7 linked regions of the Homo sapiens genome follow. The protein of the gene in region 1 interacts with the protein of each later gene in a biochemical or structural test. Each region holds a gene or a part of one and is shown in the gene's direction. Other genes may lie near its edges.

What was found.
Region 2: the proteins of RNF7 (region 1) and UBE2S form a complex in vitro, tested with the Homo sapiens proteins (3 studies listed by BioGRID).
Region 3: the proteins of RNF7 (region 1) and UBE2D3 form a complex in vitro, tested with the Homo sapiens proteins (5 studies listed by BioGRID).
Region 4: the proteins of RNF7 (region 1) and UBE2F form a complex in vitro, tested with the Homo sapiens proteins (10 studies listed by BioGRID, with this or other methods).
Region 5: the proteins of RNF7 (region 1) and UBE2L3 form a complex in vitro, tested with the Homo sapiens proteins (2 studies listed by BioGRID).
Region 6: the proteins of RNF7 (region 1) and UBE2D1 form a complex in vitro, tested with the Homo sapiens proteins (11 studies listed by BioGRID).
Region 7: of the proteins of RNF7 (region 1) and CSNK2A1, one has a biochemical effect on the other in vitro, tested with the Homo sapiens proteins (2 studies listed by BioGRID).

The regions. Positions count from the first base shown.
Region 1 is NC_000003.12:141,744,107-141,748,515, forward strand, and holds the end of RNF7 (RING-box protein 2), read left to right. Parts: intron 1-1,052; coding exon 1,053-1,171; 3' UTR 1,172-3,454; downstream 3,455-4,409. UniProt on the Homo sapiens protein: Catalytic component of multiple cullin-5-RING E3 ubiquitin-protein ligase complexes (ECS complexes), which mediate the ubiquitination and subsequent proteasomal degradation of target proteins.
Region 2 is NC_000019.10:55,401,367-55,405,165, reverse strand, and holds part of UBE2S (ubiquitin-conjugating enzyme E2 S), read left to right. Parts: intron 1-687; coding exon 688-878; intron 879-1,018; coding exon of another isoform or gene 1,019-1,165; exon of another isoform or gene 1,166-1,203; intron 1,204-1,823; exon of another isoform or gene 1,824-2,034; coding exon of another isoform or gene 2,035-2,223; intron 2,224-2,508; exon of another isoform or gene 2,509-2,576; intron 2,577-3,403; coding exon 3,404-3,730; 3' UTR 3,731-3,799. Other genes in the region: RPL28 (large ribosomal subunit protein eL28), read right to left, coding at 2,035-2,223. UniProt on the Homo sapiens protein: Accepts ubiquitin from the E1 complex and catalyzes its covalent attachment to other proteins. Catalyzes 'Lys-11'-linked polyubiquitination.
Region 3 is NC_000004.12:102,802,941-102,807,467, reverse strand, and holds part of UBE2D3 (ubiquitin-conjugating enzyme E2 D3), read left to right. Parts: intron 1-4,527. UniProt on the Homo sapiens protein: Accepts ubiquitin from the E1 complex and catalyzes its covalent attachment to other proteins. In vitro catalyzes 'Lys-11'-, as well as 'Lys-48'-linked polyubiquitination.
Region 4 is NC_000002.12:238,028,729-238,033,255, forward strand, and holds part of UBE2F (NEDD8-conjugating enzyme UBE2F), read left to right. Parts: intron 1-1,827; coding exon 1,828-1,885; intron 1,886-3,493; coding exon 3,494-3,526; intron 3,527-4,527. UniProt on the Homo sapiens protein: Accepts the ubiquitin-like protein NEDD8 from the UBA3-NAE1 E1 complex and catalyzes its covalent attachment to other proteins. Together with the E3 ubiquitin ligase RNF7/RBX2, specifically neddylates cullin-5 (CUL5).
Region 5 is NC_000022.11:21,590,950-21,595,476, forward strand, and holds part of UBE2L3 (ubiquitin-conjugating enzyme E2 L3), read left to right. Parts: intron 1-1,911; coding exon 1,912-2,007; intron 2,008-4,527. UniProt on the Homo sapiens protein: Ubiquitin-conjugating enzyme E2 that specifically acts with HECT-type and RBR family E3 ubiquitin-protein ligases.
Region 6 is NC_000010.11:58,358,730-58,363,256, forward strand, and holds part of UBE2D1 (ubiquitin-conjugating enzyme E2 D1), read left to right. Parts: intron 1-2,608; coding exon 2,609-2,672; intron 2,673-2,765; coding exon 2,766-2,797; intron 2,798-4,527.
Region 7 is NC_000020.11:498,001-502,527, reverse strand, and holds part of CSNK2A1 (casein kinase II subunit alpha), read left to right. Parts: intron 1-2,593; coding exon 2,594-2,695; intron 2,696-3,222; coding exon 3,223-3,273; intron 3,274-4,527. UniProt on the Homo sapiens protein: Catalytic subunit of a constitutively active serine/threonine-protein kinase complex that phosphorylates a large number of substrates containing acidic residues C-terminal to the phosphorylated serine or threonine.

The DNA.
Region 1 (4,409 bases):
CAAGTCTAGATTGCTATATAAACATGTTTATAGATTTTCTTAGAATAAAAGATTGGCTTTGTATTTTGTGTTTGCATGGTGTACGTAGAACACAAATACATGGTGTACATAGAACTTCTTAATATTGATTCTTGCAGTTTTGATCCAGTTCTTCCTCCTGAAACGCTTAGAATGTTTCACCCTTGCTTCCTACCCCCTGTAGCCAATTTTCATAGGCATTTTTTTCTTTTTTTCTGCCTTATTTCTTTCATTTAATCTTTTTCTCTGCCTTATTTCTTTCATTTAATCTTTTTCTCTTGTCATATAGCTCAGTTGATCAAGCAAGGGACAGATGAATCCCAAATTCGAGATTGCATTCTAGATTGTGGATGATTTCCCTTGTTTTAAAGTTTTTCTTTCATGCTGCTTGTTTAAAAAGTATTAATTTGGGAATTGTGAGGGGCAGGCCACTTTCTTTGATCACAGAGAGACCTCTCTCTCCAGCCAGCCACTTTGAAAATTTCATCGTCACATGAGGAATTGCACTGCTTATGGGTGACTTAACACAATTCATCACTTCTAGAAAACAGCTCAGCTCAGATGCACAACTGAATGTTTAGAAGCATGTTATTTATAATAGCCTACTGCATACTAAAAACATTTACAACTCATTCTGTCTTGGTAAATAAAAATTGGAAGGACATTTTCCCATAAAATAAAGCCCAGAAGATCTCTAAGGTCAGTGCATGACTGAGAAGGTCAGATCTAAGGAAGGTTCAAGAACATTCATCTAACTTCAAGAAGACAGCATGTGGAGCTGTGTAGGAACTAGGGGTCATCACATCACCCATAGATTCTAGAACAGTGATGGAAAGGCTCTCAAACAGTGACTTATGTCTCTGTGTAACTTACACATTTAAGTTTCTGTTTCTTTATAGATAGAAAAACATTATTTTGGCCAATTAACTATCTTTTTTCAAGATTATTATTTGTAATATAAAATAAGCTATAATTTTGAGTTCAGTGTTTAAATTGAAATATGTAATGTCAACTCTTCTTTTTCTTTCTTTCAGTGGTCTGGGGAGAATGTAATCATTCCTTCCACAACTGCTGCATGTCCCTGTGGGTGAAACAGAACAATCGCTGCCCTCTCTGCCAGCAGGACTGGGTGGTCCAAAGAATCGGCAAATGAGAGTGGTTAGAAGGCTTCTTAGCGCAGTTGTTCAGAGCCCTGGTGGATCTTGTAATCCAGTGCCCTACAAAGGCTAGAACACTACAGGGGATGAATTCTTCAAATAGGAGCCGATGGATCTGTGGTCCTTTGGGACTCATCAAAGCCTTGGTTTAGCATTTTGTCAGTTTTATCTTCAGAAATTCTCTGCGATTAAGAAGATAATTTATTAAAGGTGGTCCTTCCTACCTCTGTGGTGTGTGTCGCGCACACAGCTTAGAAGTGCTATAAAAAAGGAAAGAGCTCCAAATTGAATCACCTTTATAATTTACCCATTTCTATACAACAGGCAGTGGAAGCAGTTTCAGAGAACTTTTTGCATGCTTATGGTTGATCAGTTAAAAAAGAATGTTACAGTAACAAATAAAGTGCAGTTTAAAACCCAACTCTTACTCTTAATTTGTTCCTAATACGTATTTTTGGCAGGGAGAGGGAACGGTCCATGAAATCTTTATGTGATATAAGGATTTTAAGTTTGGGCCAGTGAACAGGGTAAATAAAATTTAACTTTTGAGCATATGGAATTTTGATTGCCTTTAAAGTTACTATTCTGTATCATTGATTCATCAAGAAAACCTAGATCTGCACTCACCTCACTGTTCAATCATTGAGTGGTAAAGGACAGAAGTATTTTCTAGTTCTGGTCAGATGATATAATTTTTTTTTTTTTTTTTTGTGGGGGTGAAGTCTTGCTCTGCCACCCAGGCTGGAGTGCAGTGGCATGATGTCAACTCACTGCAACCTCCGCCTCCCGGGTTCAAGTGATTCTCCTGCCTCAGCCTCCCGAGTAGCTGGGATTACAGGTGTGTGCCACCACACCCGGCTAATTTTTGTATTTTTAGTAGAGACGGGATTTCCCCATGTTGGCCAGGCTGGTCTCAAACTCCTGACCTCAGGTGATTCGCCCACCTCAGCCTCCCAAAGTGCTGGGATTACAGGTGTGGGCCACTGCACCTGGCCCAGATGATATAATTTAACTGTGTTTTAGGTAACATGTTAATGAGGGAAAATGTTTACCAGTGTAGCATTGGATCAAAAAGTTTATCACACAGTGTTTTAATAAATGGTTTATTCTGCTTACCTTATTTGAATTGTCATTATAATTTTATATGCAACCTTAATTTGTCAAGTAAATACTTTCATTTAATTTGAAAGAATTCATATTCATTTGCTCTTTCATTTGACAATAATAAAATTTAAGGTTTATTACCTGGAAAGAGTGCAAGAAAATACTAAACAACTTTATCAAACTGATTCACACTGAGGGGAGGTTATTTTGTAACAAATAATGGACCACAAGTTCATTTTGTATTCTTCTGTAGTAGAGGCTACTGATATGAATTTAAGAAAAAACCTTAGAATCTTAACTTTTCACATCTGCAGATGCAGTGTGCCATTCTGAATTTTTCAATCTAAGGGATGTGGATACATAGAATGTTTAAAAAGATAACAATTAGAATGAAAAATTAAAATTATGTATGCTTTTATATGGGTTACTTTTTATTGATCACATTTCTCTGGAAATTTTTCTTTATATTTTTTCACAGTTGTCTTTCTAGCTACTGAAAAAATTATACAAATATCTTTGGCCATTTAAATGTTTATCATTGTGCAGTGAACTGTTTTAGTAACTTTCTGTTTGACCTTTTTAGAAGGTTGCATCCTTAAAATGTGAACCAGATACATGGCTTTGCATTGAAGAGGAAAGCAGTAGAATGTCAGGTTACTTTAGGCAGTGTGACAGTATATAAATGAAATGTGGAGGATGGTGGTAACAATTTGATTTTCCACACAGCAAAACCACAGTCCCGCCACCTAACAAAGCCCTGTTTATGCCACACACCAGCATCTGAGGGAAGAGGAGGCACTGTGACAAAGCAGCGCTGATGCTGCTCAGCCTGCGATGATTACAGCTCATCTGCACAGCCATCTGAAAGTTTAATACATACTCATCAGAGGGAACATGCCGGGACAATTTTGGGTTCCAATACAAAAGTTAAGCATCAAACAGGTTTTTCTTTCCATTTGATTAAATGTGCTGATTTTATTTTACTGTTGCATTAGAAACAAACAAGTTATCTTTCGCTATTTAATTTTCCCTCTATGCAAATTGTGTTATTACAGCTGACCGCTATCAGTAAATCTTAATTCTGTCAGTCCCATTGCTTCCTTTTTTATAAAAATACTGTGTCCCCCTTTACTGTCATGAAGTGAAATTCATAAATATATTTCCTACACATATAATTTAAATGTATGTAATTGTTATATGACAGAACTAAAAAGAACTTGTAATTCAGTTGTATTTCAATATAGAAATGCTTGGACATGGATGGGCACGTTGGCTCACGCTGTAATCCAAGCACTTTGGGAGGCCAAGGTGGGTGGATTGCCTGAGGTCAGGTGTTCGAGACCAGCCTAGCCAACACGGTGAAGTCCTGTCTCTAACAAAAATTGGCCGGGTGTGGTAGCAGGTGCCTGTAATCCCAGCTACTCGGGAGGCTGAGGCAGTAGAATCGCTTGAACCCACGAGGCAGAGATTGCAGTGAGCCGAGATCGCACCACTGCACTCCAGCCTGGGCAATGAGCGAAACTCTGTCTCAAAAAAAAAAAAAGAAATACGAAAAAGCAGCACTTTGCTGCTTTTTAAGTTATTGCCATGGAGCCAGGCATGGTGGTGCACACACTAGTCTCAGCTACTCTGAAGGCTGAGGCGGGAGGATTGCTTGAGCCTAGAAGTTTGAGGCTGCAGTATACAGATCATGCCTGTAAATAGCCACCACACTTCAACCTGGGCAACATGGCAAGACCCTGTCTCCAAAATAAATAAATAAGTAAAAGTTATTGCCACGGGTAGTTTGGAGTAATGAACGTTTTATGCTCTGCAATGAAAAGGAGAAAATTTCAGTGTTTAGTAAGCCCTTGTTTGTATTTATTGTTTTTTCGAGACAGAGTTTCACTCTTGTTGCCCAGGCTGGAATGCAGTGGCGCAATCTTGGCTCACTGCAACCTCCACCTCCCGGGTTCAAGAGATTCTCCTGCCTCAGCCTCCTGAGTAGCTGGGATTACAGGCATGCACCACCATGCCCAGCTAATTTTTTGTATTTAGTAGAGACAGGGTTTCACCCTATTGGTTAGGCTGGTTTTGAACTCCTGACCTCAGGTAATCCACCTGCCTCAGCCTCCCAAAGTGCTAGAATTA
Region 2 (3,799 bases), on another chromosome or scaffold:
CGATCTCCGCACACTGCAACCTCCCCATCCCGGGTTCAAGGGATTCTTCTGCCTCAGCCTTCCGAGTAGCTGGGATTACAGGCATGCACCACCACGCCTGGCTAATATTGTATTTTTAGTAGAGACGGGGTTTCTCCATGTTGGTCTGGCTGGTCTTGAACTCCTGACCTCAGGTGATCCACCCGCCTTAGCCTCCCAAAGTGCTGGGATTACAGGCGTGAGCCACCACACCTGGCCTCTTGCTCTTAAGAATTCTACAGCCTGACTGGGCATGGTGGTTCACGCCTGTAATCCCAGCACTTTGGGAGGCTGAGGTGAACAAATTGCTTGAGCCTAGGAGTGCAAGACCAGCTTGGGCAACATAGTGAGACCCTATCTCTTAAAATAAAAAAGTAGCCAGACCTGGTGGCATGCCCGTAATCCCAGCTACTTGGCAGGCTGAGATGGGATCACCTGAGCCCAGGAATTGCAGGCGGCAGTGAACTGAGATTGTGCCACTGCACTCCAGCCTGGGTGACACAAGAGACCTTATTTCAAAAAAAGAAAAAAAGAATCCTCCAGTCTGTTGGCAGAGTTGGCGGGGCACCCACCTGCATCACAATCAGACCGTGGAGACTGGACTTTGGGGTGTTGAGGTGCCTTGGGACTCCTGAGTGCCCTGACCCTGTACCCCTCCCTCCACTCCAGAGGGGACCCCATATGCTGGAGGTCTGTTCCGCATGAAACTCCTGCTGGGGAAGGACTTCCCTGCCTCCCCACCCAAGGGCTACTTCCTGACCAAGATCTTCCACCCGAACGTGGGCGCCAATGGCGAGATCTGCGTCAACGTGCTCAAGAGGGACTGGACGGCTGAGCTGGGCATCCGACACGTACTGCTGGTGAGTTCTGGGCTGGGGCTGGGCCTCCTGCCTCCTGCCTCTGGAGGTCTGCTGGTGTCTGAGCCATAGCGCTTTGTTTAGTTTTTCTGAATCAACTCTGAAGTGGTTGAAGGTTTCCACATAAAAATCCATGTTGCTAGCTTTCCTGGAAAGACAAACAGTGCCAGACCCAGGACACCCAAGTACTGTTGAGAAGTGCCCAGGAGCACCTTACTATGCAACGAGTGGTGAGTTTGTATTGTAGGATGGTTTTTCTCTTCTCCCTTTTTTTTAAAAAACAAGGATAGGGTAGGCCAGGTGTGGTGGATCACTTGAGCTCAGGAGTTCGAGACCAGCCTGGCCAACATGGTGAAACCCTGTCTCTACTAAAAATGCAAAAATTAGCCGGGCATGGTGGCACATGCCTGTAATCCCAGCTACTTGGGAGGCTGAGGCAGGAGAATCGCTTGAGCCTGGGAGGCAGAGGTTGCAGTGAGCCGAGATCGCGCCACTGCACTCCAGCCTGGGTGACAGAGTGAGACTCTATCTCAAAAAAAAAAAAAAAATAAGATAAAAAATAAAACAGGAATGGGGTCTCATTTGTTGCCCAGGCTGGTGTCAAACTCCTGAACTCAAGTGATCCTCCCACCTCGGCCTCCCAAAGTGCTGGGCTTATAGGAGCCAGCCACTGCGCCTACCCTGTAGGACAGTTTTCTGACAGGTGGAGGTCAAGGGTCTAGTTAGAAGCTCTTTCTTTCTTTTCTTTCTTCTTTCTTTCCTTTTTCTTTCTTCCCTTTCTTTCCTTTCTTTCTTTTTGTTTTAAAGATACTGGCTCTTTGTTGCCCAGGCTGGAGTGCAGTGGCGCAGTCATAGCTCACTGTAGCCTTGAACTCCTGGGCTCAGGTGATCTTCCTGCCTCAGCTTCCTGAATGGCTGGTATTACACGCATGCACCACCATACCCAGCTAGTTTTTATATTTTTATGGTTTGCAGAGATGGGGTCTCATTAGAGGCTTTTTTGCTAAAGCTGAGCTTACATGCCGTAAAACTCAGTTCCAAAGTATACAGTTCAGTGGTTTTTTAATAGCGATAGGGTTCATAAACCAGTGTTTCTCAGCCAGAGGTGATTTTGCCCCCCAAGGGGTATTATGCATTGTCAGGAGACCAGAAAGGGTTGTCACAACTCGGGGGTGCCACTAGCATCTAGTGGGTGGAGGCCAAGGGTGCTGCCCAAATCCTGCAGCGTACGAGATGGCTCCATGACACAGAATGACCTGGCTGCGGTGTTGCTGAGGTGGAGGCGTCCTGGTCTAGGCTGGTGCTCCAGGCTGCTTACAGCCTGCTGCCTCCCAACCCTTCCCGCAAGCTGAAAAAAAAAAAAGTTAACCAAATTTCTAATGAGTCCCTGGGGCACATGGCAGAGAGGGTGGGGAATTGGGGTTTCCTGCCATGGGGAGGGAGAGGATTGAGCTCCAAGGTAAACAGACCCCAAACCCTTCCCTCCCACATGTACCGCCTCCCTTCCCCTGGGGTGTCATTGGAGGCTGCTGGGGACATTGGCACCGAGCTCCAGGCCTACTTGCTGCTAGGTCAGCATCTGGGCCTGTCAGGGGCTCAGCCAGCAAGAAGAGCAGCCAGACCTGCAGTTTGGGTGCAGTGATGAGAATTAGGGTGGGAACCTGTGTCCTGGTCACCATCAGTGATATCTGCTGAGCATCTGCTGAGCCAGGTACTGTGTATGTGTCATAGTGGCCCCAGGGAGCAAACTGCTGTGGCCAGTTTGCCCAGACCCACTTCAGAGGATCCAGCTGGGGCTGCTGGAGGCCTGGCTGCAGGTCACACCTCTGCACTCCAATTTACCCCTCAGGACGGGCTGTGAAGGGGGTTGAGAGGAATCTCTGGACCACCCTCGAAGTGCACCTCAGCCAGCAGTCCTGGTGTCTTGCCCTCTTGTGTGTGGTCCAACCCAGCTAGAGTCTTAGGCTGTGAACTTCGGATGTCTGATAAAAGACAGAGGTCAGGATTTATGCTGTATCTGGAAAGATGGGGAGCTTTAGAGTCCAACACGCAGGTGTGATTTCCTCAAATCCTGAGGCCCTGGGGAAGTCTCTTCTCTCTGTCCAGGCTGCAGGCCTCACTCGTTGAACCAGAGGGCCTCTAAGGTCATGCTGAACTGCATGGAGGCAAATTCAAAACCATAATAGGACTCAAGTCTGGGGCTCAGGCAAGTAATGGACTCCTGAGAGGGGGCCTTGGCGTTTCCCCCGTTACCCAGCAAGTTCCACGGAGGACCAGGGACATTTTAAACCATTGGGCCTATGGCATCGTGTCCTTTTGGGAACATCTGCTGTGAGGCAGGTCACATGAAGGTGGCCTCTGAGGGAGACAGGAGCAAAGATGAGGGAGGATGCAGCATAGGTGGGGCCTGGATCTGCAGCTGAGTTGGGAGCAGAAGGAACAGCCAGTGCGGAGGCCACCCTCTTGTGGAGGCCTGGGGGTCCCTGTAGGTTGCCCGACCCACTGTGACCCTGAGCCTCTTCCCACAGACCATCAAGTGCCTGCTGATCCACCCTAACCCCGAGTCTGCACTCAACGAGGAGGCGGGCCGCCTGCTCTTGGAGAACTACGAGGAGTATGCGGCTCGGGCCCGTCTGCTCACAGAGATCCACGGGGGCGCCGGCGGGCCCAGCGGCAGGGCCGAAGCCGGTCGGGCCCTGGCCAGTGGCACTGAAGCTTCCTCCACCGACCCTGGGGCCCCAGGGGGCCCGGGAGGGGCTGAGGGTCCCATGGCCAAGAAGCATGCTGGCGAGCGCGATAAGAAGCTGGCGGCCAAGAAAAAGACGGACAAGAAGCGGGCGCTGCGGCGGCTGTAGTGGGCTCTCTTCCTCCTTCCACCGTGACCCCAACCTCTCCTGTCCCCTCCCTCCAACTCTGTCTCTAAG
Region 3 (4,527 bases), on another chromosome or scaffold:
TTGGGTAAATTTCAAGAAGGAGTCAAAGATTATAAAAATCCACCCAAAGTACGGGTATTGTCTTGTACATAAGTAAGCACATAATTTAGATGCCAGCTTTAAATAGTTAACTATATGCTTACTGTGGAGTGCACCAATGAAACAACTCATTTTGTTCTTTTGGCTTCTCAATACTTCTTTGTGACAAAGCATCACTGTATAAGATAAATAGTAGCTTATTTTGTGAGTATGGTTGCTCTATGTAGCAAGCAGTTGTGACCTAAAGCAACCCATAAATTACAGATTTAGTGGGAGAACTGGACAGTTAACAACGTCACTTTTGCTTTGGACTACTACTTAGGTCCCTTAAAGTGGTGCCAGTGCCACAGAACTGAAGATTCCTGACTGTAGGGAATATACCATCTAATTTTGAGTTTCAATAGAGTAACTTTGATTTTAGTGAGTTGTTGGGAAATCCTTTAGATCATTAGTTATGCAGCAAAATTGCTTGGCTTTAATAATCATATGTACTGGCTTATTCTTTCTGAAGGTAAGCTACTTCGGAAGCACAACTATTGACTAAAAACTAAACCTTCGAAAGAAATGACAGCATTGCTAGTTTTTTGTGTGCGTGGGTTTTTTTGGGGAGGGGGGCGTGGGGTACTGTATTAAGGTTAGTTTCCAACAAGAATTGATGTAATTAGAAGAAATTGACTTCCTTACCTATTGCCTCTGATATTTACTTGCTTAAATTTTTTTTTATTGGAAATCCAGAAAAAGTGGATTTAGAGAACAACACTAACTCCCACCTAATCTATGACAGAGATGTAGAAGAGAGTACCTGTGAAAAATGTGAAAGTATCTGAAAAATGTAACCTTTGGCAGCCTGAGCATAGTCAACCAGAAAAACTATCTGAATTAAAATAATTGGTCCATAGGTACTATTTTATTTGGTCCATAAGGATTATTTTTTCAACTTTTTTTTCAAGTGTATTATTATGTCATTTCCCACGTAGGTTACTGATACCTGAAGACTTTTTCCACCTTTAACCTTACTCGTTGAGGAGCTTTGTAGTCTAATAAAAGAGAAATATAAGTAAATGTTAGATATATGGGTGGATAATGGTAACTATGTGCTTAAAGAGGTATAAAAGAAGGGTAGGGAGCAGATAAGACAAAGGAAGGGCTATATTATAAGGAAGAATATTCCAAGTAGGGAAGAGAAAAAGATATGTTATCCATATAATATTTTATGTGCAGTAGAGAACATGTTCTATAGAAGAGACAGAAGATGAAACTAGATGGGCACCCAGATCATAAAGCACCGTATGTACTTAGGAGTTGGAATTATCTTAAAAACTATCATAGATTTCAAGCAGGGGAGTAACATTTTTAAAAGACCACTTTATCATTAGGATGGAGGGATAATCATTAGTAAGCTATTGCCATAATCTAGGCTGAAGATAACATCATGAACTAAGATGGTAGTGACAGTGGGCATAAAGGAGAAGCTAATTCAAGAAATTTTAAAGATCTTACTTGATAACTATCTTGATTCTGAGATAAGAGAGGAAGAAGTTGATGATGAGATCCTGGTTTATGGCTTTCAGTTATGGCTTGCTATTAATAAACAGGAAAAAAGGGATTGAGACAAGTTTCAGTTTTGGACGCATGACATGAGATATCCAAGTAGAGATATCCAAGTAGAAATATCAGTAGGCATTTGAATATATGCCCTGGAATGAATAACTGACCAGAGATATATTTTGCAACTCAAATTTTTATGGGTCAGCAGTTAAGAGTAGAAAATCAACCTATAAGAATACCAGCATTTTTAGCTGGGTGTAGTGGCACATGCCTGTAATTCCAGCTTCTTTGGAGGCTGAGGCCCGAGAATTTACTTGAACCTGGGAGGTGGAGGTTGCAGTGAGCCGAGATCACACCACTGCACTCCAGCCTGGGCGACAGCACCACTTTAAAAAAAAAAAAAAAAGAATACCAACGTTTTATTGCCACAGAAGAGCTGAGGCACTGTGAGGGAGCAACTTTGCACTGATGAGAGCAAAAGAAGTAGAAGGTTTCTGAAAAAATCTAACATAAATTCTGGACTTGTACGATTTGAGTCGATTTGCTGATCACAGTGTTCCTTATTCTTTGGGGATTTTGTTTCTTTTTGGTGTAGTTTGCTGCTGATTCATAATAGAATTTAAATATCATAGGGTCTCAATTTTTTATATTGCCTAGTTTCATTATCTCTGAACCTCGTAGTTCTTCCTCTTTTGGCATGGCAGAACTTTAGTGTTAAATTGTAACATTGAAATATTTTGCCTTCTTTATAAAGTTCTTTTTTCGAACAAACGAAACGAAATTTGGCTTTGCCTAAATCCCATCAGCAGATTGCCTTTATTCAGAAGCAGTCATAGACAGCATTTGATTTTATGAAAATTGAAATGAAAGCTTACAAAGAACTTCTGGAATTAGGTTATTAAAACTTCAATGTTTGGGGCCGGGCATGGTGGCTCACGACTGTAATCCCAACACTTTGGGAGGCCAAGGTGGGTGGATCACTGGAACTCAGCAGTTTGAGACCAGCCTCTCAACTAAAAAGACAACAAAAACTCCGTCTCTACTAAAAAGACAAAAAAAATTAGCCAACTGTGGTGGTTCACTCCTGTAGTTCCAGCTACTCGGGAGGGTGAGGTGGGAGAATCACTTGATCCCAGGAGGCAGAGGGTTGCAGTGAGCCAAGATCGTGCCACTGCACTCCAGTCTGGGCGACAGAGCAAGACCCTGTCTCAAAAAAAACAAAAACAACTTTAGTGTTTGGGATTACCTTTAAATTGTTAATTTTACACAGAAAAAACATATCTTGTATAGTATTGGATCAGGTGAAAGTATATGCTATTTGAAGCATCTATTCAAAATTAATATAACTATTTAATAAAGACATGTTAATCTAATAAACTCAGGTCACATTCTAAGTGACCTGAGTGTTTTTCTAGTTCCATATTTTGTAGAAAATATGAAAAAGGACTGGGCACGGTGGCTGATACCTGTAATCCCAGCACTTTGGGAGGCTGAGGCAGGCGGATCACCTGGGGTCAGGAGTTAAGAGTTCAGCCAACATGGTGAAGCCCCATCTCTACTAAAAATAAAAAATTAGCTGGGCACGTTGGTGCACACCTGTAATCCAAGCTACTGAGGCAGCTGAAGCAGGAGAATCTCTTGAACCTGGGGAGGCGGCGCTTGCAGTGAGCTGAGGTTGCACCATTTTACTCGAGCTTGGGCAACAAACAGCAAGATGATATTCTGCGTCTTGTTTGTCCCCCTTCCCGTTCCCATTCCCCCCGCCCTCCACCCCTACAAAAAAAAAGGGGGAAGACTTGGGAGATGGAGAAGGACTCACTTTAAATAAGCTCTGGCTGGGTACAGTAGCTCACACCTATAATCAGCACATTTTGGGAGGCCGAGATGGGTGGATCACAAGGTCAGGAGGCCGCAAGACTAGCCTGGCCAACATGGTGAAACTCAGTCTCTACTAAAAATACAAAAATTAGCTGGGTGTGGTGGTGCATATGTGTAATCCCAGCTACTTGGGAGGCTGAGGCAGGAGAGTTGCTTGAACCCAGGAGGCAGAGGTCGCAGTGAGCTGAGATCGTGCCACTGCGCTTAAGCCTGAGCGACAGAGTGAGACTCCGTCTCAAATAAATAAAAGCTCTTCCATTTACTAGTTGTATATTTCTTTGAACCTGATTCTTCATTAATAAATTGACCTTTCTTCTTTGAACTCGTGTCCCTTGTTCATATTTCATGATACCTATAACATTTCATTGCAGTTACTTTACATGTCTATCAGTGTAAGCTCATCAAGATAAAAAAAATTGTTCTTTGGATCCCTTAACACACATACAGTATATAGCAAGGGGTTAGATTAATTGAATTAATGTTTATTTATTTTACAGAAGGGTAGGAATTAGATGAGCTGTGTTAGTGTCAGGCCTGTTTTTTATGTGCCTGACATCCAGAATGGGCATAGTGAAAGGCTCATATATAGCTGTATATACAAAGCCTTTCTAATAGAGGGGAGTCAGTGTTGGTAAAAACCCAGTTCATGTAAGTTGTAAAACATGTCTTCGGATTGGTTCTTTGCATACCCAGAAGCAGTTAGGCATTCCACATTTTAACTTTAAATTCCTGAGTAGGTCAGTATCTTTGATCATTAAGTGGTCTTCAAAAGACTTGTGTTTGAATCTTGGTTCTATCATTTACCATTTGTACACTAGACTAAGTTCTTTAAGCCTCATTTTTCTCATGCATAAAATAGGGGCAATGCATGTATTTTCTGGTATTGATTAAAATGAGAAGCTTAGGCTTTTCTCTGTTCTCCTCTTGAAGGTGGTGTGTGTGTGTTACCTGGAATAGCTAACATTTGGTTTGCCAGTGGGCAGAATGGACTGTTGTGAAGCCATTTGTACACATCTGGCTATTGGAAGAAATAATCTACATGTGTAAAATTTTGTTTACAGATTATTCTGAAACATGATTATG
Region 4 (4,527 bases), on another chromosome or scaffold:
AAACTCTACATATTTTTCTCCTGATCTGAATTGACTTTTGTGAATTTAAACATGCTCTAATTCAAAAAAGTTTATCAGAGGTAACAATTATGGATAAAGCCTGATATTTTATTTACAGATCAAAGCCACAGCACAATAATTCAACAAATACAAAAGTAATTTTATCTCCAGAAGGAAGCTTGGCAATAAATTATACTTTTTTCAAAGTATGGAATGATCATTTAATCCTTTTAAAATTATTTAAAATTTTTTTTTTACTTTTTAAGATTATTGGGAAAATGCTAATCTTCTCTGTATCATCCCAATTTGAGCATATGTGCTGCGGAAGTGAGCACTGGAATGATCATTTCCATGAGAGTATATGGTGTGCCTTTACAGCTGATAGACAGTAATGACCAGGACTCTCAGGTACCAGCTTCAGAAACAGGGCTTCATCAGACCTCTGAATCCTGGTGTGCCTTCCCTGAGCATGGGCCCCCCACCTAAGGAGTGATTGATACTCAGAATTTTGCATTAATCTTTTATCCTCAAGCTTTTTCTTTTGAACTTTAAAAAAATAAAAAAAAAAACCCAGTTACGGCTGGGCGTGGTGGCTCACGCCTGTAATCCCAGCACTTTGGGAGGCCGAGGCGGGCGGATCACGAGGTCAGGAGATCGAGACCATCCTGGTTAACACGGTGAAACCCCGTCTCTACTAAAAATTCAAAAAACAAAATTAGCCGGGCGTAGGTGGTGCATGCCTTGTAGTCCCAGCTACTCAGGAGGCTGAGGCAGGAGAATGGCGTAAAACCGGAGAGGTGGAGCTTACAGTGAGCCGAGATCGTGCCACTGCACTCCAGCCTGGGAGACAGAGAGAGACTCCGTCTCAAAAAAAAAAAAAAAAACCCAGTTATTAAAATGTCATATGCTGGGAGCTCCCATTGTTGTTAACCTGCATCAGCAGTGTTTCAGAATGTCGGTGCCCGTGAGCTGCCTGGGTTGGAAGAACAACATTGTTCATGAGGCGTGTGCCCTTGGGCGTGTCTTCTCTGTGCCTTGGTTTCCTCCTGTATAAGACAGGGAAACAGGGATGCTCTCTTCACGGGTGGTTATAGGCATTAAGTGAATTTAATGGCACAGCACCTAGGATTGTGCCTGACATACACATAATAAGCTCTAAGCTTCAGTTACTCCTGTTGTCATGTTGTCATTTTGTTGCCATTGTCATTTTCTTTCTTTCTTTCTTTTTTTTTTTTTGAGACAGGGCCTCACACTATTCCCAGGCTGGAGTACAGGGGCGCCATCACAGCTCACTGCAGCCTTGAACTTCTGGACTCAAGCAGTCCTCCACCTTTGGGAGTACAGGCGTGCACCACTATGCCTGGCTAATTTTTAATTTTTAGTAGAGACAGGGTATCACTGTGTTGCCCAGGCTGGTCTCAAACTCCTGGACCCAAGCTATCTTCCCACCTTGCCTCGGCCTCCCAGAATGCTGAGATTACAGGCATGAGCCACCATACCCAGCCACCATTGTCATTTTCTGAATATTAAATTGACAAATGTTCTTTGTGTGTTGTTTTAAACATGCTCTTCCTCAGCCTAAAACTTCCATGTCAAGTATTACAACAAATAGATAAACATAACACAAGACGTTATAATTGAATATGTATATAACCTTGGAGGTGGAAATGCCTTCCTCAGCAAGAGAAAACTGAGAAGCCACAGAGGAAAAGATGGGTTTAATAAAAAGTAGAGCTCCTGCATGGCACACACCGAGAGGACTAGTTGGCAGCGTGCAGGGCACCTGTGGCTGCTCCTCACTAACCACTGTGTGTTTGTCTTTTTCAGTTTATTGAGAGAACATTCAATTGATGGCACTGGCTGGGCTCCCACAAGAACATTAAAGGTAGAGTCTGTGCCTTGATCTTGATCATAAGTTGTCCCTGTGGTCCTCTCCCTGCAGTAGCCAGCCTCCCGAGAAAGCAGCACATGTCCTTGCCTGTCACATCCACACCAGTGGCCGGACACACCCTGCCTCCTCTTCTCCCTGCTGCCTAGGCTACTTAGCCAGTCACTGACCTCGGTCAGTTTGGGCCGGATGAGCATCCTTGTTGACTTTGCCAGGCACCATTCTAGAACCAGAGATAGGAGCCCAAACTGCAGGCTTCACAGCCAAACCACCCGCCACATAGGAAACCTCATGGCCATCATTCATTCAACAGGGATGTCTTGAGCTTTTCTGGCCACTAGGTGTTGGAGGAGGAGCAGCAAATTGATGTGCAAACCACTCCCTATGGCCAGAGAAGACTGTCAGGTGTTGGGTACCTAACATCAGGCAGGGACCCTAGGGGAACAGCACAGGAAGGGGCTTTTGGCCCTGGCCCTGCATAAGGGAACACTGCAGACTGCATGCAGTCCTGACCCAGCTCCTCCGAGCTGTAGTCTCTGCCACCATGGGCAGCCCACCCAGCCTTTTCTTAGCCTCTCCCCACGCTCTAGAAATGTCCTGCCCTCTCAGAACTTTCCCTCTGCAGGTCGTGCCTCTACCTGGAAGGCGGCCCTCTCCTCCAGCCCTCTCCCTGGCAGACTCCTGCTCCCCTGGGGCTCAGATGGCTGTCATTGCCTCTGGAGCCTCTCCTCCCAGGGTGGGTGCTCTGGGGAACACGTCTCATGAACAGTGCTGGCCTGCTGACCTGCCCATCTGTACATCCCCCTTCCTCAGGCTGAGGGCTCACCTTCACCCACACTCCAACCCTAGGCCTGGCTCACATCGGAAGGTCAGGGATGGGTGGGTGGATGGATTGATGGACTAGAGAAAACAGAGAAAGGCAAATAAAATTACCAACTAGCAAAAAGTAGGGGAGGAGCATGAGAACAGGCCTAAAAAGGACGAAACTCTTGAGTTGATGAAGAGGAAAATGGAGAATGAATTTGTGATTCACAGATGGCAGGTCAGTACAGATAGAACAACTCTGGCTTTCAGTTTTATTTAATGAAAATCTCTGATCCTTGAATTGTGAATCTTCTATGATTCTTTAAATAACTAATGCAAAATCATTAAGAAAACTTAATAGGATGAGGGGTAATTAACTTATCTACGACCGCAAGAGGCAGTAGATGTAAAAACAACAGACTTTATTTTGAAGGTGACTTTTTAGAAGTCAGAACCATATTTGGTGGTAACAAGTAAGAGGTGATTTAAGGTGGAGCCCCTATGCAGACACTGGCCTGCGGGCCCTGTCGTGCAGGATTGGGCTTGTCAGGTCTGACTGGGAGGGTGTCTGATGCTATCTTTGATTTTATATTCACTACCTGAGACTGCTCATATCTTTGAATTTTCCAGAGTTTGTTGTTACACTTGAAGAGAAGTTATTTTAATTTTCTATCTTGAGAAAAACAAACCATGCTAAAGACAGGTTTTGATACAGTGCAAAGCATATTTCTTGATCATGGGTTTAAAAGACTAGGTGCACTTTGGCTTAAAACTTGTTTTCTGTTTTCTTTTTTATTTCAGGATGTCGTTTGGGGATTAAACTCTTTGTTTACTGTAAGTACAGTGATCAAAATCCCAAGTTATTCTCAATTTCCTTGTTGCTGGTTTTAGACATTGCGTTAAGACATGGTTTTAACACAAAACCATGTTAAAAAATGAAACATGGACTGGGCACAGTGGCTCACGCCTGTAATCCTAGCACTTTGGGTGGATCCCCACTTGAGTCCAGGAGGCCCAAACCCCATCTCTACAAAAAATAGAAAAATTAGTTGGGCATAGTGGCACATGTCTGTAGTCCCAGCTGCTTGGAAGGCTGAGGTGGGAGAATTGCTTGAGCCCAGGAGGCAGAGGTTGCAGTGAGCTGAGATTGCACCACTGTACTCCAGCCTGGGCGACAGAGACTCTGCCTCAAAAAACAGATACACACAAAAACCCCCCAAAAACATGCTGGCTGGGCATGGTGGCTCACACCTGTAATCCTAGCACGTTGGGAGACTGAGGCAGGTGGATCACTTGAGCCCATGAATTCAAGACCAGCCTGGGCAACATAGCAAGACCTGTCTCTAAAAAAAAATAATAAATTAAAAAATAGCCCACCGTGCAAACAGTTACATAGTTACCCCTTTTTTCTATTGCTCTTTTATGAGTCAGAAGTAGAACAGTGAGGTGGGGAATGAGGGGACTTTGGAGTGACATGTGGGGAGGTTGTCTGGGGCAGGGGCCACAGCAGTCTCACTTCTGCCCTGCTGAGGTGGCTGACCCCGGTTTCTAGGGGATGAGGCTGGTTCCACTTCCCTTAGCCCCTTCCAGCAGGGTGGCTGTTACTCTGGGGTCACTTGGCCCAGTCCACTTCTGTGCCTGTGGCTACACTAGCCAGCCCAGGGAGTGGCCCTGTCACCTCCCAGGTGTTCTGGTTGGGGTGGATGATTTTGTGGTTACCCAGCCTTGAGGGCTTTTCATGAGTCCAGAACCTCAGAGTTGTTGTCTTTTTGTCAGTGATGAGCTGCTGAAGTTTGCTGTTCTCAGGAAATAGCATTTCTCAGACAATGGCCCTA
Region 5 (4,527 bases), on another chromosome or scaffold:
GCCCTTGTTGAGCTTACATTCTATTTGGAGAGTGGAAGGAGGTGGCAGTGTGGGTGTGAGATCTCTTCCCCTTTCTGAGTCTGCCCAGGCTTCATAATCCCCAGGGGAGCATTTCTTATGAGTCTTGTGAGCAGGAGGACCAGGTGGCAGTTGGCAGGTTGGAGTGGTCCCTCAGGTTCCGTACCTCCTTATGCAGGGAAAGAGGGGCCTCATGCAGGTGGAGAGGGGCCAGGCCACCCCATTCCTCACTGCAGGAGGTTGCAGCCCATGCCGCTAACGCCTCCTCAGGGAGAAATGGATCCATCATCGCTCCCAGCAGTGCCTCTTCTCTCACCACAGCTATAGCCTGTGAGAAATCCCTATGTTCAGGCTCCACCCACACTTGCTGGACCAGAATTTCTGGGGCTGGGCCCAAGTCCAGGTGATTGTGGTGGGCAGATGAGGGTGACAGGCAGGAGCACCCTGTGGGGGGAAACTTGTGCCTGTTGCCTGCTATGAAGCACCAGTGTGTTCCACCTCTTCCGTGTATTCATTCACTGCACTCTCCCTCTCTGCTGCTCTGGGCCGGGCGCCCAGCACATCTTCCTACTCAGAACCAGTAACCTGGGCTCCGGTTCCCCCTTCCTTGCCAATTGTTTCCTTCCCTGCCTGTGTAGCCTCAGGGTGCCTTTTAAACTACCACTGTGTGATGGAAGTATGAGGTGCAAGGATCTTTTGGGCTTGATGTGGGGGCTGATAGGGAGCCCCCAAGCCACTGTGAGTTGAAGTACCACGTAAGGAGGTTCTGGAGGGTGCTGGAGCTGGGCCAGAGGAAGCAGCCTGGCGAAGGAGGCAGGGCTCAGCTGGATGGTGCTCGGGCTGCAGAAGAGAAGGTGCCTGACAGGTGTGGAGGCGGCTTTTGTGCCACTGGATGGGAGGCCGGGCTGAGGCGGGTAGAGTGGCACTTCATGTGTCAGAGTGGAGGAATGTTGGCGAGGCTGGTGTTCTGGCAGGAGGGCATTGCTGGGTGGTTTGGGTTATAGCGCCTGCCAGGCATTCACTGAGATGTTGGAGGCAATGGGAAATGTCAGGCTGGTGCACAGTTGAAAAACAGGTGACAGACAGTTCTGAAGACATCTCAGGCAGGACCCTGAAGTCGTAAAGTTGTGCTTTCTGGGTGAAATGGCACTTGCTGCATTGACTGTTTATACAACAATAACCCCACATATTTGCAAGGGGTCCTGTTGCCCACAACATGGCTTCCCTTTCCTTTTCTGCACTCTGGGTCTGTTTTGCAGCTGAGGAAACAGGCTCAGTGAAGGTTTCCCGTCCCCACCCCCCCACTCCCACCCCAGTCCCAGACTGGATGGTTCTCTTTGCTGTGTGCCCATGTTGAGGTGGAGTCCTTCTGAAATCACACTTATAGCACTGGGTAGAAAACTGGATATGCGTTTGTGTCTGGTTTGTTCCCAGTCCCCAGTTTTATTCATCTTTAGCTTCTCAGCATCCGGTGCATAATCAGTGCTTAATGAATCTTGATTGGAAGGTATCAGGTGTAGAGCACCTCAGGATAGCTCCTGCCACATGTCTGCCCTATGCAGGGTGCTGAGGGATTTAAACAGCCATGGTGACCAACCCAAAGAGGAGGTGGTACGTCTGCAGAAGCATGGTTCCCCCTGTCCTATTCAGGGGGGTTCACTGAGGTGGGGGCTTGTCTTGGTCTGGGGCATGGGGAGAGGCAACAACCTTGCAGAGGGGACCGCCATGGCAGCTCCATGCCTCCTTAACCACTCCAAGCACAGTTTAGTCCTCACTGTCCAATTTTGTCATTAGCATTTTTGGCACTTGGTTTAATTTGAGGGCATCAGGAGGGATCTTAATATGTGGTGCTTTCCCCTATTTGACACCCCTTTATGCTTTGTCAATCAACAGGAGCTTGAAGAAATCCGCAAATGTGGGATGAAAAACTTCCGTAACATCCAGGTTGATGAAGCTAATTTATTGACTTGGCAAGGGCTTATTGTTCCTGTGAGTATTGAACACTTCCACTTCCTACCAGATTATTCTTTAAGGTGATGTGTGTGCTGTTGGGCTTGTTTTTCTGCTCCTTAGTAGGCTCTTAGTCTAGGCAGCCAGCAGATGCACAGAAGTGGCTGTCGCTCTAGGGTGATAAGGTAGGGAGTGTAGCCTTGGGTCCTGAGTAGAGTCACATCTTGGCACTCGTTTTGTCAAATTCAGGGAGTCCTGAGCTTTGCAGATCTGTAGACACAGAGAAAAGGAGTGTGTCTGTGCTCCTGCTCTTTCCTGACTTCCCTGCGCCTGGCCTGATGGATCAGCAGGACCTTCTTCTCTGAGCTCCTCAGGAGGGGACAAGCATTCCCCTCTAGATATTTTGCTTTCTCTCTTGGTTTTGCATTCATGTCTCTAACCCTTTGGATACCTGTATTTCGGGCTTTATTCCTGGTCCCCTCCAACCTGTGCCTTCCATTTGTCTCAAGTCCCTTTTCCTAATTGCCCACATGTTCCCCTCACCCCATGTCTTTTCTGGGGCTTATGCCTCCAGTGTCTGCCCCCACAGCCCAGCTCCCCCATCTCACAGTCTTCTGCCTTCTGATGGGCTCAAGGCCCTCCTAACGATGGCTTTCCTTAGCACCCTCTTAGTGCCTACTCTTTTCTGCATCCTTTGATCCCCTCCCCTTCAAGAGGCTTGTCTTATAATTAACTCCAGTTTGCAATCCCCCTTCCTCTCACTCTCCTGAAACCACGTCACACCCAGCCCACAGGCTGCCCCCACTGTTGTCACACCTCTAGCTCGGCAGTGCTGGCATCATGGCCCTTGCTTGCCTCCTGAGCTTTTGGAGCACGGGCAGCATTCCAGCCCCCAGTCCTGTGACCAGCCTGCCACTCGCTCCTGTTCTGCCACTCCTTCCTCCTCACTCTTAAACATGACTCTTGTTGGTCTCCTGCTGTTCTCCTGTTCTGTTTTGTCTCGGGACCCTACTACTTTCGGCATCATAGATGATTATGCCAGACATGAAGGATTCCCACACCTGTCTCCATTCCTGCCTTCTCCCCGGAAGCTGCACCATCTGTCCACCAGGCGGCCTCACTTGGTCATTGTGTAGCCTTCAGCTACCTCAGCTCACACCCTTGTCCTGCGTGAGTGCCCTCCTTTCCTGTTCTTCCTCATCCACTCACCTTCTCTGTTCCTTTTCATTCCCACTTTGCACATCTGAGCCTCTGGCCCTTGCCCTGTGCCTGCCGCTGTCCTGTATATAATTTGTTCTCATGGATGGATTGGCTGCTTTGCCAAAGCAGAGCATGGAGCATGCTTCCTCCTGTAGATGCTTCTTCCTGATGCTGGTTATAAGGTCATGAGCATGGAGCATGCTTCCTCCTGTAGATGCTTCCTCCTGTAGATGATTTCTCCCTGTAGATGCTTTCTTCCTGATGCTGGTTATAAGGTGAGCATGGAGCATGCTTCCTCCTGTAGATGCTTTCTTCTTGATGCTGGTTATAAGGTGAGCATGGAGCATGCTCCCTCCTGTAGATGCTTTCTTCTTGATGCTGGTTATAAGGTCATGCTTTTTTTTTTTTAAGTCCCTGAATTTGATCAGCAGTTATTGGATTTGTAGTTTATTTCCATAATCATTTGGATAACTAAGGAAAGATATGCTTTGTAATGATTTAGTATGCTCAGAATGTTTAAATCTGGGAGCTTCCAGTCTGATTTTGAAGATGAGTCCTTTAGATTTCTTTAGGCTTGATGGTGTTAGGGCTCAGGGCAAAGGGTGTGGGTGGCAGAGACACCTCTGCATGGGAGGGGTTGGCCTGTGAGTGCAGCCCTTGCCTACTCTAGGGACCTGAAGATGGCCGGGACCATCTGACCTCTTGTCCCTTTTCTAATTGAGATTGTGTAGTCTACTGAGCAAAGAAATGAACAGTTAATCTGTGGCTCTTTGGAAAATGATAAAAATGAATGGAATGGTTTTAAGTGGTAAGGCTTGGGCAGTCTGGCCCTGAGAATTTAGTGGCCTGAGAGCCTGCTAGCCAGCTCCACGGGTAGATTGCTGCTGGGCATGCTCTGCCCCAACTCATGCAAAGGCCTCCCTCTGGTTTCACGCTGGCAGGGGCTATGGAGCAGTGGGCTAAGATCTTACTAGGGCAAAGGTGGAGGCTGGCTGGTAGAATCCAAGTGTGCTTGGGCTGAGGCTCTGGGGAGCTATCCAGGCCAAAGTTTCACCTTGGAGACGGTAAGCAACAGCCAGGGCTGCTCTTGTCCCTGTGTATACCACTTCTTCTCGGTCCTCTCCCTTGCTTTCTTCCAGGGCCCCTGGGTTTGTATGAGGAATGTTTCAATGAAGTCTTCTTCCTTCTCCAGAGCAGTTAAGGCATTGTTGACATCTGACATCCCCAGGGTCCACACTTGTACCCCAACCTGGGCTTTAGGTCTTCCTGCATTGGACGGGCTGGGCCAGCATGGGAATCTACTATACAAACTCACCTGAGGTCTGCCCAGTTGGGGTAAAAGTAGAGCCAGGCCGATGA
Region 6 (4,527 bases), on another chromosome or scaffold:
AAAGTCTGAAATCTGTTTCCTTATTGCTTTTTCTTTTTCTTTTTTTTTTTAAATGCGGTCTTGCTCTGTCACCCAGGCTGGAGTGCAGAGGCCCAATCATAGTTTACTGCAGCCTCGAACTCCTGGGTTCAGGCGACCCTCCTGCCTCAGCCTCCCAAGTAATTGGAATTACAGGCATGAATCAGCCTGCTTGGTCCGTTATTGCTTAACTGTAACATGGACCAAAGAAGCAGCTAACCCTGTTAGTTAATTCTTACTAGGAAGAGAAACCGCACCAGCTATTTAAAAAAAAAAAAAAAAAAAGCAAAACAAAAATGAAAATACCAAGGTATACTGGAAAATAACATTGAGCTTAGAAGGAGACCTGAGTTTGTACCTGGCTCAGTCACCCAGCTCATTTATCACTTTCTTAGGAAGGCCTTTCCCTGTCACACCCTCCTTCTTGTTTGTCTCTATTAGAGCACTGAACTCATTGCCATAATTACCTTATTGCAGTGATTCTAAGGTGGACATCTTTCACATTTTAACTTTTCTAAAGTGTGGATGCATTTTACAATTGATGGTGTTTTAAAATAAATTGGCAGCATTTTTTCTTAATTATTGGTACTTAAAATAAGGATGTGCTGTACAGTTGATGACATCTTAGATTTGATTAAGTGCATATTTATTTTTGTGTGTTCCCACAAAAATGTTTACATCATTCTCATGGTTTTAAATATCAGATATATGCAATGATTTTCCAATTTCTATCCTTTTTTAAGGTCCACCCCTGTATGTTGAACCACATTGTTTCTTCATATCACAAGGATTACAGATTCAACATATCTACTCTCCAAATCAGTTTGTCTTCTATTGTTCTCTATCTCAGTGAATGGCATCCACATTCGTACATTTGTGGAACTAAAACATGAGATGATCGCCCACCTGGGTTTGAATCCCAGTTCCGCCCTATAGTAGTTACTCAAGCATGCAGTGAAGTATGTCACCTTAACTATTCACTTGTAAAATGGGGAACATAATAACACCTATCTCTGAGGATTGTTAGAATGACTAAGACATTGAATAAATGTTAGCTGTCCCTAATCTTCATCATACATATCTATGACTTCTCTCCTTCCTCTGCACATGTAATTCATCAACTCCTGTGATAGATAGGCCCTTCAGAGTATCTCACATCTACCACTTCTATCTTGTTGCCACTTCTCCAATCTAAGCCCCCATTTTTCTTGCCTATGCAGCAACTAATATTGTAGCTTCTCCTCTTTCCCATGTCTAATCCAGTCACAACCATCCATTAAATCAGAACATGCCACTTCTTAAGACCTCCCTCACCCCCTACCTAATGCATTTGGTATAAAACACCACATCATTAATGTGGTCTGTATGGTTGTCTGTTTCCTGCCTGGCTTCTGCCCACATTTCCAGCCTCATCCTCTGCCACTCTGCCTCCCAGTATCACTCTTTTCCTCCAAAAGTAACTCCTACTCATCCTTTAGATTTCAGCTTAAATGTCACTTCCTCAGAGATGATTATTGATCTTCCAAACTAAATTAAGTTCTTCAGTTATAGTCCTTTATATTGAATGTATGCCTTTCTTCTTTGGGATGATCAGTTTCTCCCAAACTGTGGCTAAAGAAGTGAAGTAACTTCCACAAGGCCAAAGAGTGAGATCTATTAGAACTGGAATTCTCTCTGTTAGAGGAAAAAAAAAAATCCAAAAAAGAGAAAAGAAGAAAAATGGAAAGAACTGGAATTACAACCCAGGGGCGGGGTGAACTCTAAAGCTGTGTCCTTTCTGTGATCTTTGCTGCCTTGAGGGCAGGAAACAGGGTATGAATCAATGTTCTAAGTTTCAAAACATGGCCTGACTGCTGCTCGTTTATTTCCCATTTCAAGTTGTCCTTAAATGAGCTGGGTGCAGTGGCTCATGCCTGTAATTCAATACTTTGGGAGGCCGAGGCAGGTGGATCACTTGAGCACAGGAGTTGGAGAACAACCTGTTCAACATGGCGAGACCCCATCTCTACAAATAAAATTAGCCGGGTGTGCTGGCACATGCCTGTAGTGCCAGCTACTCGGGGTAGGAGTGGGGGCCTGAGGTGGGAGGATCGCTTAGGCCCAGGAGGTTGAGGCTGCAGTGAGCTTTCGTGCCACTGCACTCCATCCTGGGCGACAAAGTGAGATCCTGTCTCAAAAAAAAAAAAAAAGTTATCCTGAAGTATTATTCTTTCTGAGCCTTCATGCTCCCTCAATAGATTGTAACCTGTTAAAATAGTACCTGTTTTCTGATATATTATCAACCTAGCATTTACATAAATTATCTTACATACAGTAGGTACTCATTAAATAGTTTTTCTCTTAGGGATGTTAAAGAAAAACAGTATTTTTTTTCCATTTAATCTTTTCAAGGTCTGAAGCTGTCTCATGGAGGAATTGAGTACCTTATTCTTTCTACCAGTCAATGACAGAGTACAATTTATGTTTTTATATTTTGAATAGAACTGCTTTAAATGTTTTTAAAGCTAATAGTTTGCATCTTAATGGATCATTACCCTTGTTTCATTGGGAAAAGAAGGAATTAACCTTACATATTTTTGATTTCCTTCAGGAATTGAGTGATCTACAGCGCGATCCACCTGCTCACTGTTCAGCTGGACCTGTGGGAGATGACTGTAAGCCTTGCTCTATTTCTGGGATTATGCTACCTTTAAAAATATAGGTTTGAACATTTGTTAATGACTCCAAAACTCCTTTGTTTGTTTCAGTGTTCCACTGGCAAGCCACTATTATGGGGCCTGTAAGTATGATTCATATCTATGAAATTAACCCCCTCAGCCATACTTCATTCTTGCCATTTCACCTTTGATCAGATGTTTGTGATGAAGGTTGAATATTCTTGTACTTTGAATCACCTAGGAAGCAAAATATTATTAAGGATTTACAATGATTTTCCAAAGCATTGGTGGCAAATATTTCCTGGGATCACTATTATGTTTTCCTTTGCTGAATCCTAGATCATTACACATAATGGAGTGCCACAGCTCGCAACCAGGCTGTGTGTTTATCTTTTTTTTTTTTTTTTTTAAGTCACAGAGAGTTAGTTGTAATTAACCATAATCATTCTCACATCCACAGTTTTGGTAGGTTAGAAATTAGTCTAATGAAGCCAATAATTGAATTCCTACAAGTAACAAGTGTCAGTTTGCCATAAGTTTCATCACTGTTCTTTTTTGTGAAAGAGAATCAATAAAATATTACAATGGGTCTGTCTTTACCTCCTTATAAATTTGCTGCTTTTAATTTTGTTGCATTGTCCTAAACACAAAATTATCTGCTGTTTGATAATTGGCTACTCTCAATACTTATTACTTTTGTTAAAATTATTTCTTTCAATACTTTAGAGGCAGTTACAAGACTTGAAACAGGCTTTTTCTTTCTATGAGCAAAAAATCTGATTGCATAAGAATGAGCACTGACAGCTCAAATCTACTTTCTGGGTGAGAGTACATAAGTAACATGTTTCCATGAACACCATTCTCTTCTCCCTGCCCTGAAAGAGCTTTATCTAGTGAGTTACAGAGTTTTTAATCATACGACCTTGTGTTTAACTTTAAAAAACACCAAAACTACTGAATTTCAAAGCAGTACTCTGGGCAGTTGTCTCAAATTATTGTTTTATTAAGTTTGTTTTTCTAAAAAGGCAAAATACAATGTATTTATATAACAACTTTCAATAAGAATCCATTTATTTCTGTTTGTTTTTAATTAGTTACTAAGAACCTTCAAAATACTCTCATTTAAAGGCCCACCCTTACCTTTTGAATTATGGCCTTTCACAAATATTTTTTAGGTGAATCACATGTAACAAATGGTTATAATCATGTTATTCATAACTCCCTTACTTTAGTAATGTAAATATTTACAGTACTCTGGACCATATCTGTCATTGTAATTTATCTTCATTTTCTATATTTCTTACAATTTTTGATAAACTAGAATTGTTTAAACAATATATATAGTAAGAATTATTATACAGGAAAATCCTCTAGCATATATGTGGAAACTTAACGAGAAAGTAATGAGTCTTGGTGTTATTACCAGAATGCTAATATAACATGATATATTTAATTAAATATGAAAGAATTAAAATAGAATTGTAGGTATAGTTTGCTAGCATTTTCTTTTTTTAAAATTTTTTTGCTTGTAATGTTATATTTTCTAATGGCTATAAAGAAACATGGTCAAATTTAAATTTCTCTAGTAAAGTTGATTCCCAATTTGATAGTAGCATGAATATATAATTTTGTTTTGGATTTTTTTGGGTTCTCTACATTATTTTATAAATAATTACTAAACGAAGATTTGGCACATAAATTGTGTAGCAGGGTCCTTAGCATTTTCTTTTCACGACAGCCTCTTCAGTTCATCTCCATTCTTGGTCATCAAGTGAACATCAGAACTTAAGTTTTACTATCCTCAACCCTTTTTCAAAAAAAATACTGATTACGGCTGCAGAAAATGATCTTT
Region 7 (4,527 bases), on another chromosome or scaffold:
CAAAAGTTGCATTGATCGCATTAAATTCGGGCCTGAGTCAGCTGCCTGGTCTGTCACAAACCAGCTTTTTAAGTTTATAGATTTGAAGCATTCTGTAGAGTAGTTTTGTCAACCAGAAGCTTTTTTTTTCCACTAAAAAACCAGCAGTTGGGTTAATGGAAAACAGGAGGTAAGTTGTTGGGTTAGTCTCTGCAGGGTGGAAAGATCTCCCAGATAATATAACAGTTTATAAAGATCTGAATAGTTGAAGCAGGAAGAGAAGACTTATATTATCTTGTTTCTTAGGTAGATATTGTATTGGGTAAGAGGTCGTGGGTTGAATTCAATGGACTACATGGAAGTCATTAGTAAAATAGCTTCTGTTTATTGGGTACCACTTTGCATTGGACCTGTTCTAACTGTGGTATGTAAATCACTAACAGGCGAGTATAGTCCCTTTCAGCAGTGAGAAACATTTAAATGCTTTTCTGAACACTGCACAACCACAAAGCCAGGTTTTGAGAACTGTCAATGTTTCCAAAATCTGCTTGCTTTCTGCTATCATGTGCTTGAGGCTTAAGACAAAGTTAAAAGAATTTATAGTATTATTTGGTAGTTTCTGGACCTGGATCATCAGCCTGGAAAGTATCTAAAAATAAATCCCCCGTTTCCCTCTCAAGATTTTGATTTAGTGAATCTTGGTGGGTTCTGTGAGTCTGTATATTAAAAAAATCCAGGTGATTGTTGGTCATCAAACTTTAGTAACCACCAATCTTGTTAATGAAGAGATGAGATGTACTTAACTTCTAAGAGTTATATGCAGTGCATCTAGTCTGAGGTGACCAACACCCTAGGAAAAGACCTGCACAGTCCAGTACAGCAGGCACGCAGGCCACATGAGGCTGTTAAGCACTTGAAATATGGCTGGGCTGAATTGAGATATGCTGTAAGAGTAAAATACATTAGATTTCAAGGGTTTAATACAAAAAAAGGTAAAATAGATTAATAATTTTTATATTGATTTATATGTTAAGATTTTAGATTAATAAAGTACATTAATTTTGTCCTTTTTAAAATTTTCTTGATGTGGCTACTAACACATTTAAAATTACACATGTGGTTTGTATTATATTTCCTTTGGGCCAGCACTGTTTTAGACTATTCAGGAGAAGGCTTTATAATATAAGCCCAGGCACAGTGGCTCATGCCTATAATCCCAGCACTTTGGAAGGCCAAGGCAGGCGGATCATGAGGTCAGGAGTTCGAGACGATCCTGACCAACATGATGAAACCCTGTCTCTACTAAAAATACAAAAATTAGCTGGGCATGGTGGCTGGCGCCTGTAATCCCAGCTACTCGGGAGGCTGAGGCAGGAGAATTGCTTGAACCCGGGAGGCGGAAGTTGCAGTGAGCTGAGATCATGCTACTACACTCCAGCCTGGGCGACAGAGCAAGACTCTGTCTCAAAAAAAAAAAAAGGCTTTATAAAGGAGGTGCAGTGGGACCAAGGCCCTCCTCAGAAAAAAATGAAAAGGATTCCATACTAGAACAGATGTGGAAAGAATGGGTAAGGACAAAGGAATGTTTAAGATATGCTCTGCAGAATACTCTTTAGAATGGAGGGGTTCATTTATAAGAGTATTGGCACTTTGGGAGGCCGAGGCAGGCAGATCACGAGGTCAGGAGATCGAGACCATCCTGGCTAACACGGTGAAACCCCGTCTCTACTAAAAATACAAAAATTAGCCTGGCCTGGTGGCGGGTGCCTGTAGTCCCAGCTACTCGGGAGGCTGAGGCAAGAGAATGGCGTGAACCCAGGAGGCGGAGGTTGCAGTGAGCCAAGATTGCACCACTGCACTCCAGCCTGGGTGACAGAGCAAGACTCTGTCTCAAAAAAAAAAAAAAAAAAAAAAGAGCATTGGTGATCAGGCTAGACAGTTATTATTATGTTATGTTTCAGCCATATTCCGAAATCTTTCGAATACCTCATTTGATTCTTGCAACAATCTTATGAGATGGGTACTCTTGTTACTCATTTTACACTTAATGAAAGGCTTAGAGAGGTTATGTAGTTTGCCATTAACAGCCAGCAGGTAGTAAAGGTAGGTTTCACATTGGGCATTGTGACTCCAAGACTCACCCTTTACCCTCAGGGTTGTGCTACACAAAGATGTTTTGGCCATCCTTGTTGTTGGCCCTAATTAGAGGAAGAAATGGAAAGGGCCCATGTTTCATCCTAATTGATAAAAAGTTTGATATACTTTAGTATTACTAACGATTTAAATTGCTACTTTGTAAGGTTTTAAGACATTAACATGTTTAACATGTTTTAAAACATTAACATCAAGACTGATGATTGAAATGCTAATTCTGCAGAAGTGTCTGGTCTTTGGAATAGAAATCTTTTTTTCTTTCAATTCAACATTTGTAAGTACCTGCAGAATACCTGGCACAGTGCTAGGAGAAGGATTCAGAGACGAATGTGACACATTTTCTTCCTTCAAGGTGTGCTCATAAGTAAGCCATTTATCATTTATGTATTACACTACGTGTTGAAATACTCTGAAAAAATTTTTTTTTTTTTTTTTTGCTGATGTACTTTTCCCCTTTCAGCCAGTAAAAAAGAAGAAAATTAAGCGTGAAATAAAGATTTTGGAGAATTTGAGAGGAGGTCCCAACATCATCACACTGGCAGACATTGTAAAAGACCCTGTGGTGAGTATAGTAGGTGTTAGCAAGGCCCGCCAGAGCTGAGATGGTGTTTGACCTGGAGCACAACTGGCCTCTTTTTGTTCCCTCCCCCAACCCTCATCATTAAGTCCTGCTTTGAAAGTGCTTAATCAGATATACCATTTAACTAGCTTGGGTCTTTCTTTCAAAGAGACCTCCACCCACAGACTATTTCTTATTCTTCTAGGCTAAGAGACTGATAGCACTGGAAACTGAAATGTGTTAATCCATTTTGCAAACTCAGGTCCGATGCCGATGGGCGATGGGCGCATTGTCGGGCTGCCTAGAGCCTGGTGAGACTTCAGCTCCATGTCTTCTGTTTGAAATCCATCCCAAAAATGACCTAAGTGCGGTGATGATCAGAGCGGGGAGGGCTTGTAGCAATAGAGGGTTTCTTACTACTGAGGCGAGGACTGCCAAATTTCACCACGCAGCATCCGCAAACATTGTCCCCATTAAAGCTGTCAGGGCTATTGCTAATGTGTGTTTTTGTTTTTGTTCTTTTCCCCTAGTCACGAACCCCCGCCTTGGTTTTTGAACACGTAAACAACACAGACTTCAAGGTATAATATATAACCAACTGTTTCGGGCTAGTGGGTTTTTAGACCACATAGCCTTTGGGGATGATGCTGTTAGAAGAGCTTGCTTCGCATTTGTTTTTAAAAAGCTTTTCATCCTTACAGTGCAAATTTTAAGATAGAAGAACTCCTATATAAGCAGTGCCCACTTTCTGCATCTTGATATTTTGCCCATTTGTTTAATGTTCTTTTTAATGACCAACACATTGACTTCTCACTACTTAGTTGACAGTTTCTGCTGATGTCCAACCTAATGAAGGCAGTAACACACGTTCACTTAGGATCTGGCCATATGGCAATTCGCTTTAAACAATAGTGTTCAGGAAGAAATATATTGTATGTATAAAAGTAGGGACTGCTTATTTCTTAGGATTCCTCATAAACTGTGGGCTATAGATCTTAAAAGGCAGGGATCGAGGAAGGATAATGTCAAATTCTGCCATAACACAAACCTCTATAAGAGATATCTCAGAATTCCAGTCTATCCAGTGGCCTACTTATTTCACACAGTTCCAATTTTACAGAAGAATATAGCTACTCTTTTGGAGTAAAAGTAAAAATCTTCGATTTGCCTTTCCACCAGTCCAGTATCCAGAATGTTATATATTAATAAATTAGTGAATTCTGTTGCAGAGATAGGGAGAAAGGAAGAGGAACTGCTTTAGAGTCAGAATGATAATTTCAAGAAAAACTTTGTCAGAAGACGTTGCTAACCATTAAAGAGACGTACCTGTGGCTGGGCATGGTGGCTTTCGCCTGTAGTCCTAGCTACTGGGGAAGCTGAGGTAGGAGGATCGCTTGAGCCCAGGAGTTTGAGGTTGCAGTGAGTTATGATTGCAGCACGGCACTCCAGCCTGGGCAGCAGAGTGAGGACCCTGTCTCAAAAAAAAAAAAAAAAAAAAAAGATATGTCCATGTAAAAAACATTCTGCAACTCTTTGGAAACTGGAAAGGATACATAACAGTTGTTCAGAGTTTACTTTCCAATTGGAACAAGAATAGTTTTGTTAAATTGACTCAACAGGTTTGGTATCATGCCATCTGCATACCCACTGGTGATCTGCAGGGCCAACTATGTAAGGCAAAGATGAGTTAGTTCCCTACTAAGGAGGCAGTATATTTGCCAAAATGCCTCTTTTGAGAAGGTCTGAAGATACATGAAAAGCAAACTAAATTATAGGTGGGTGTCAGTGCATATTAACGTATCTAGATCAGTATGTTTCTGACAGTGGATTATAGC